Linked DNA regions of Homo sapiens. The protein of the gene in region 1 interacts with the protein of each later gene in a biochemical or structural test. Each region holds a gene or a part of one and is shown in the gene's direction. Other genes may lie near its edges.

Region 1 (3,500 bases):
TACCCTGAGATGCTACATCGTGATGTCCAATATGCAGTAGAAGGTGTACGTGACCTTCATTTTATATTCTTCATTTTACAGAAAACACCACACTATTCCAAACTGCACCTGAAAACAAAAAGCCAGGATTTTCACTTCCACCTGAAATATCACAATTTGTCTCTCTACACTGAGCATTCTGTGCAGGAGAAGAACTGGTACAGTCTTGTCATTCGTGAAGATGGGAACAGTATCTCCAGCATGATGGTAATTTGAGGAATTGCCTGTGTTTTCAGTTGTCATCTCAAAGTAATATGACTGTCTCATCAACATCTTACCAAGGATCTGCCTGATGATCAAATTTTCTGAGTATAGGTCTTATTTCATCAGCTGTTACTGATTTTTACTTTCCTCTGTTGTAGGTAAAGGATACAGAAAGCAGAACAACCAATGGGATGACAACCGTGAGGTTTGAATGTCAATGAGATTCCAGGCCACTCTGTTTTCTTGAATCTTGGATCTCTTCTAATCTTTGGGGCTGCATTCTACTTGTTCTGAACAGGAATTCCCTCTCGTAGAATGCCAGGGGCACTGGTGTCAAAAGGCATTTTCTAGGACAGTGAGAGGCAGATAGGCTTCTTTTCTCATGTGGGATTCGAAGATGACTCTATCTGTGTATGCCCCCTGTACTCTGGGGCATAAATCCTTTCTGCTGAATTTTATCTATTTATCTTGCTCTCAGGAAAATAACTGAGTACTTTTCTCTCTGTGATCGCCAGAGAGAAATTTGGAAGTGAGAAAATAATCCTCCCTTCATTTTTGATAGTTGAATATATATCTTTTAAAGTATAGTTTTTATTATAAGCCTGTAGAGGCATCATGGTATAGCACACATTTGGAGTCAAAAGACTTAGTTTTGAATCCAGATAAGGCTGAAGGGTCTTGTCAAATGGTGAGGGACAGTTACAGAGATGGAGTACCCAAGAGGACATGTGTTCTCTGTGGCTGGTATTAGATATGAAATGGACAGATACACAGGTCTATGGCCACCAAGGTCAAGTGGTTGCTGTTGAGAATAGCATTTTAGTGGAGAACTTTTAGTGAAAAGTCTGGATTTCACTGAAGGTTGGGACAGTCATAATAACTTGCTTTTGAATATGCTTCAAAAAAAGTAAACAGCTCAAAATAAGACAATGTGAGGTCAGAGAGCCATGGGCCCCCAGAAGGGGCATTTTCTAGGTCAGTGTAGAATGATCTAAAGTCTAGGAATCAACATTCAGGACTCTAAAGGGAAATGTCCTTCTTATTCCTGGGGCCAGAGACCAAATCAAAAGCTATCAAAACAGAAATGTACCAAAACCCATCCTGAGAGGACAATCTAGGTGCCAGGTTCAGAAAAATAGAAAGATGGTCTTGGAAGGGTCCAAAGTTTCTGCAGACTCCAAAACAATTATAATAACCTACTCTGGGCTGGGAGTCTGAGTTTTGCATAGGTCACATTGGACTTCATTTATAAGAGGATAAGATATCAGTTTTATGTAAATACTATCATATCTTTATATATGCATAATTATCTTATTTTTCTTAGTAAAGTCTCAGTTGATAGATTCCACCATTATAAGGGAAATAAATTAGATGCACCTAAGCTGGATTAGTGAGGAAACTCAGATTTCCATGAATGATCATGATAGTGTCCGTCTAGCTAGAGGTCTGGTGAGGATGTGGCAGATAAAAGTTCAAGAAAAAGAAACTTAGGGACAGCTAAGACTATGGATTACTTTTTACGTGTGGGTTCATTCGTCTAGTTAACAATATACATTAGGTACCTTTTATGTGCCAGCCACTATCCTAGGCACCTGGGCACTGGGGATATAGTTATACCCAAAACATAAAAGGCCCCTAACCTCTTTTATCAGGTGTTCCTGTTTGTTTGATATGTAAATAATATCTCTACCCTCAGGTTTGTTAACACTTTGCATAAAGATGTCAACATCTCCCTGAGTACAGATACCTCTCTCAATGTTGGTGAAGACTATGGTGTGTCTGCTTATAGAACTGTGCAAAGAGGAGAGTAAGTGCATTGCCCCTGTGGACATTTTACTTTTGTCAATAATTGTTTTTTAAGTGCTATCTTTGTATATAGGTGGGGAACTTAGGTGCATGTGGTCTAATTTTGAGTATAGACGCACTACTGATCTTTTCCAACTCTTGCTTCCTTCCCTCAGTCTCACTTTTTTTCTGCACAGATATGTTGAGATCACGATTGCCGTGAAGACCACACTATATAGTTAACACAGCCCATCTCTGTATAGTTAACACAGTCCGTCTCTGTGAGTTTCTCAAAGTTTATTATTGGTTTCCATTTCTACTAAAGAAGGTACTTTGGTACCTTACACTGGCACTTCATTACTTAGAGCTTATCTTCTCAGGTTCACTGTTATAGCCTGTTCTACTAAGTCATAAGATTTGCATGAGGAAAATTCACATGGTACTTAAGTTAACAAAAGAATATGATTTGTAACTTCTTTATTTAGGTTGAATATTTTAGAAAATACCTGACAAGCAATAAAGAGCTCAAATCAGGGACAGAAGCCTGGCATGAAAATAACCTACTCCAAGAAACATTTCTCTTCAAAGATAATTAGTGGCTTCACTGCTTTCCTCACCATCAGTAGAGAGATGAGATCACTTTCACCTGGAGATGGGAATGCTTTTCCAAGCCTTGATATTTATTCTAACCTAAATTCATCCTGTTCCAGATACCCTGCAGTGCACTGTAGAACAGAAGATAAGAACTTTTCTCTGAATTTGGGTCTTCTAGACTTTGGTGCAGCATATCTGTTTGTTATTACTAATGTAAGTAGCTCACAGCCACCTCTTTACCCTCTCTCCATATACATATATCTCCTGAGATCCTCTAGGCAGGGGCAGAAAACAAAAGAGAAGACTCTGTGGCAAAGCAGACACGTATATTTATTTCTAGCATAAGATGACAGGTTCTACAGTGACTTTAATTATTTTTATTTTTATTTTTTTTGAGACAGAGTTTCGCTCTCATCGCGCAGGCTGGAGTGCTGTGGCACCATCTCGACTCACTGCAACCTCTGCCTCCCGGGTTAAAGTGATTCTCCTGCCTCAACCTCCCCGAGTATCTGGGATTACAGGCACCCACCACCACCATGCCCAGCTAATTTTTGTATTTTTAGTAGAGATGGGGTTTTGCCGTGTTGGCCAGGCTGGTCTCAAACTCCTGACCTCAGATGATCCACCAGCCTCAGCCTCCCAAAGTGTTGAGATTACAAGCGTGAGTCACCGCACCTGGCTCTACAGTGACTTTAGAAAGCCCACTGTCTCTGTAGGGGTTGTTAAGAGATAACATCAACAACAAGCAAAGGGTCTTGGGGAAGGAGAAACATAATTTATCTTGAGCCATCACTGTGAGATGCCACAGCTTGCTCCAGTCTTTTTATGTCTCCAATCAAACACAAGTTATTTATGAAAAAGTACTAATGTCTTCTTGG
Region 2 (3,500 bases), on another chromosome or scaffold:
TGAATGAATGAAGACAAACGGGAGGTGCTTGCGATACACAGCCATTCTGTTTTTCCTTAGTGGAAGGCACTGCTTTGCTGCGCCCCCTCTCTGGATCTCACACTCCACCCTTGACTTTTCGGAGGTGTTTCCGAGGACAGGCGCCTGGGAGCCAGCAGACTTCATTCAGTCCAAGCCAGGCTCCAGGACTCAACAGCTGGTGCCCACGGGCAGGTCACTTGACGTCACTGTTAAATGAGGTGAATTGGCTGCCTGCTCTGGCTGGAAGATTGGCGGGAGAGTCACTTTAGCTGCCATGGACATGAGCCTTTTCTAGGGGTGCCACTTGACTAGAGGCCTGGAGTTGGAGCAAGTCATACACGGATCTGGAGACAGAGCTCTCGAGGCAGGAGCGGGTGCTGCGATTTCAAATATTATAAGGTGGCTTTGTCTGGGGCAGAGCATGCCAGGGGATGAGAGGTAGAAATGTCATCAGATCAGGGGTCCCCAGGGAGGTGACTAGCACTTTGGGTCACAGTAGATCTTTGGATAGAGGAACATGTCACCATTCAAAGGAAAGCACTTTCATCTGTAAGCTGTTTATTGAATAGACCTCAGAGAACATCTCTGCTCACCGCTCTGGAAATGAAGGCAAATCATCTATTTCAGAAGTCAATGCACTGGCAGGGTTTGGATGGGAAAGTATACAATTCAGCTAGAGAACAAAGATCTGTCATCTCCAGCTGTACTGGTCAGATGATTACAAAAAAGAAAGGAATTGAAATACTAATAGGGTACTAATAATGAGGGCTAACATATATGTTGTGCTTATTCTATGCCGGGTGCATACTAATTCATTTGATCCTCCGGACAGTCCTATGAGTGAGTGCTGTAGTCTTCCCTGGGTTACAGCTGGGCAGCTAAGTCACAGAGAAGTACCTTGCTCAGGACTGGTGGTCCCACACAACTGGATGGAGAGCCTCGTTCATAACCACCATGCTGTGCTGTTGACAGAGCAACAGAGATTTTAAACCAACCCCAGCTAAGCCCCAGCTAATAGCTGAAATAAACAGGGCTCCAGATGGCTGTGGCTTAGAGATGGAACAGGACAGATCACAGCCTTCACTCTGCAGGCTCAGGAGCCTGAAGACAAGGTTGCCTCCAGTTGCCGTCAGTGCAGCCCTCACTAAAGAAAAGCAAAAAGAGCCGAGGGACTGTAGGAAGGCTGTTTCCAAGCCAGAGATCCAGACAAACTGCTCTTGAAGAGAGAAAGCCCTTCCAGATTCCCCCATGTCCCAAAAGACCAGCCGGGATTCCGGACCTCTGCTAAAACATGGACAAGAAGCCAGGAACGAGACCTGAAACAGACTTCCCAAACAGCAGAAGCCTCATCCATTTCTCCTGCTAGTACATCCTCCAGGAAAGCCCACCCTACTCCATGCAGCAGCCCAGACAAGCTTGGAGGTCTGCAAGCTGCAGGGGTGCCCAGAAACTCCACCCCTGGAGGTTTTTAGGATCGCCTGCTCCTGGTCTCACCCCAGAGCCTCTAAAGGCAGAGGCTGTATGTACATACCTGGTGAAGAACCAAGGGCTTAGATGGTTGCTTTACTTCTTGGAGCCCTGGAATGTTTGTAAAATTTACTTTTTTTTTTGAGACAGTGTCTCGTTCTGTCGCCTACGCTGGAGTGCAGTGGCGCGATCTCGGCTCACTGCAAGCTCCACCTCCCGGGTTCATGCCATTCTCCTGCCTTAGCCTCCAGAGTAGCTGGGACTACAGGCACCCGCCACCACGCCCAGCTAATTTTTTTGTATTTTTTGGTAGAGACGGGGTTTCACCGTGTTAGCCAGGATGGTCTCCATCTCCTGACCTTGTGATCCGCCCGCTTTGGCCTCCCAAAGTGCTGGGATTACAGGAGTGAGCCACTGCACCCGTGCCAAAATGTACTTTATTTAGGTGACTCTTTCGTGGGAACCTCAAACAAGCAATCATTGCTAGCTGAGTGCTGACCCTGTACTGAGCTCTGGGGAGACAGGGTTGAATAAAACAAAGTCACTGCCCACAGGTAACTTATATTCAATACAATGGGGGAAAATACAATCACTGCTTCCCTGGGGTTGTATTTTTCCATTGTTAAAGTGGGCAGTTTGCTCGAGAGTCATTTTCACTATTGGCAATTCAAATACACCTTTTGTCAGTTAAAAAACAAGTGTGCCAGGGACCTGAGCTTCATCTTAGGGCAGGGTGGGTGGAAACATTTGTGAGTCTCCAGCTTTTAGTCACCTGAAACTTGGAAACTTGGAGGTCTTTTGAGCAGTTTATGAGTCTCTGCCTGCTCTGGTCGGCTGCCTTCTTTTATTGCTCTGTTGGTTTTGCTAAAGAGTTAAAATATTAAGGCTTCATAAAATTAGGAAGTTAACAAGCTCAAAAACCAAGTGTTTGAGTTACTTCATTCCACTGAGAGAGCTGTAAATGGGTTGCATTGGAACTTAAAATAACTGCATTGAGTAAGTGATGGTGGCGGGCACCATGAGCTAACTGTGGTCAGAAGCCTGATGGCCTCCGCTTTGGGGCTGGATTCTCCGTTTGGAGCTGTGTGATCCTGGATGAGTTTCATGCCTTGGATTCAGAAATCAGACTTTCCATGAGCTTATATTTCAAGTGAATAAATAGCTCTGGTCAGGCTTAATTTGAAGAAGAAGTAAGCTTGGCAGTGGGTGAGGGTTCCTTGGAAGGCCAACTGGGGCGGAGGGGCTGAGGGCAAGCGGCTCTGGCCCTTCCTGGGGTGTTACCTGACCAGGTAACAGCTCCCTCGACCTCTCGGAGCCTCGGCAGTGAGGGGATTGGGCCAGTTGATCTCTGAGGCTCCTTTTAACTAGAATGGTCTGGGATTTTTCTAAGAAAACAAGTCTTTGAGGAGGTTGTGGTCACCTCATTCCTAATTTAAAGCCTGGGGAGGCTTCCTTATGAGCTACTTCTTTTTCCTAAATTATTGATGGTTAAAGCCAAGGCTGGCATCGAATAGATGTGATCCATCTTGAGCCTGGTTGCTTTGTGTTTCAGCTTTGTACTGGCTGCTGAAGTCCCCGGGAGACCACAGGGGTGACATGTTCATCTCCAAGAGATGAGCTTCCACGAGACTCATACCCCTTGCTCCTTCCCTGGGGCTCCAAGGCCTTTGGGTCATCTGAAGTGAGATACCCTTGTGTCATTTCATCTTTTCCTTCTCCACCTTCTCTGCCGTTAAAAAAAAAAGAAGAAAGAGAAAAATCCTATTAATAGAGAAACCGAGAAGTGTAGCCATTCTGAATGTGTTTCCAAAAGGCTCCTGGAAGTGGCATGGAAGTTACAGTGATTCAGCACTACTTGGTGACGTGTGCCTAGAACCACAGGGGGACATTAGCCAGGACAACACGCCTCAGGACAGAAGTAAGTGGCTGCGAAGAGGCATGTCCATCACTGCCGGAAAGATGCAGAGTTCAGTTTTTGGAGTCAGTGCTGAGAGTTCCATTTCTAAATTCAT

Evidence for each region. Proteins that work in one complex are often made in the same cells at the same time.
Region 2: the proteins of SLC15A2 (region 1) and HTRA1 interact in a test that uses a peptide from one of them, tested with the Homo sapiens proteins (one large-scale study listed by IntAct).

Annotation. Positions count from the first base shown.
Region 1 is NC_000003.12:121,928,901-121,932,400, forward strand, and holds part of SLC15A2 (solute carrier family 15 member 2), read left to right. Parts: intron 1-81; coding exon 82-246; intron 247-401; coding exon 402-448; intron 449-1,939; coding exon 1,940-2,050; intron 2,051-2,225; coding exon of another isoform or gene 2,226-2,271; exon of another isoform or gene 2,272-2,732; intron 2,733-2,738; coding exon 2,739-2,835; intron 2,836-3,500. UniProt on the Homo sapiens protein: Proton-coupled amino-acid transporter that transports oligopeptides of 2 to 4 amino acids with a preference for dipeptides. Transports neutral and anionic dipeptides with a proton to peptide stoichiometry of 2:1 or 3:1.
Region 2 is NC_000010.11:122,464,553-122,468,052, forward strand, and holds part of HTRA1 (serine protease HTRA1 precursor), read left to right. Parts: intron 1-3,500. UniProt on the Homo sapiens protein: Serine protease with a variety of targets, including extracellular matrix proteins such as fibronectin. HTRA1-generated fibronectin fragments further induce synovial cells to up-regulate MMP1 and MMP3 production.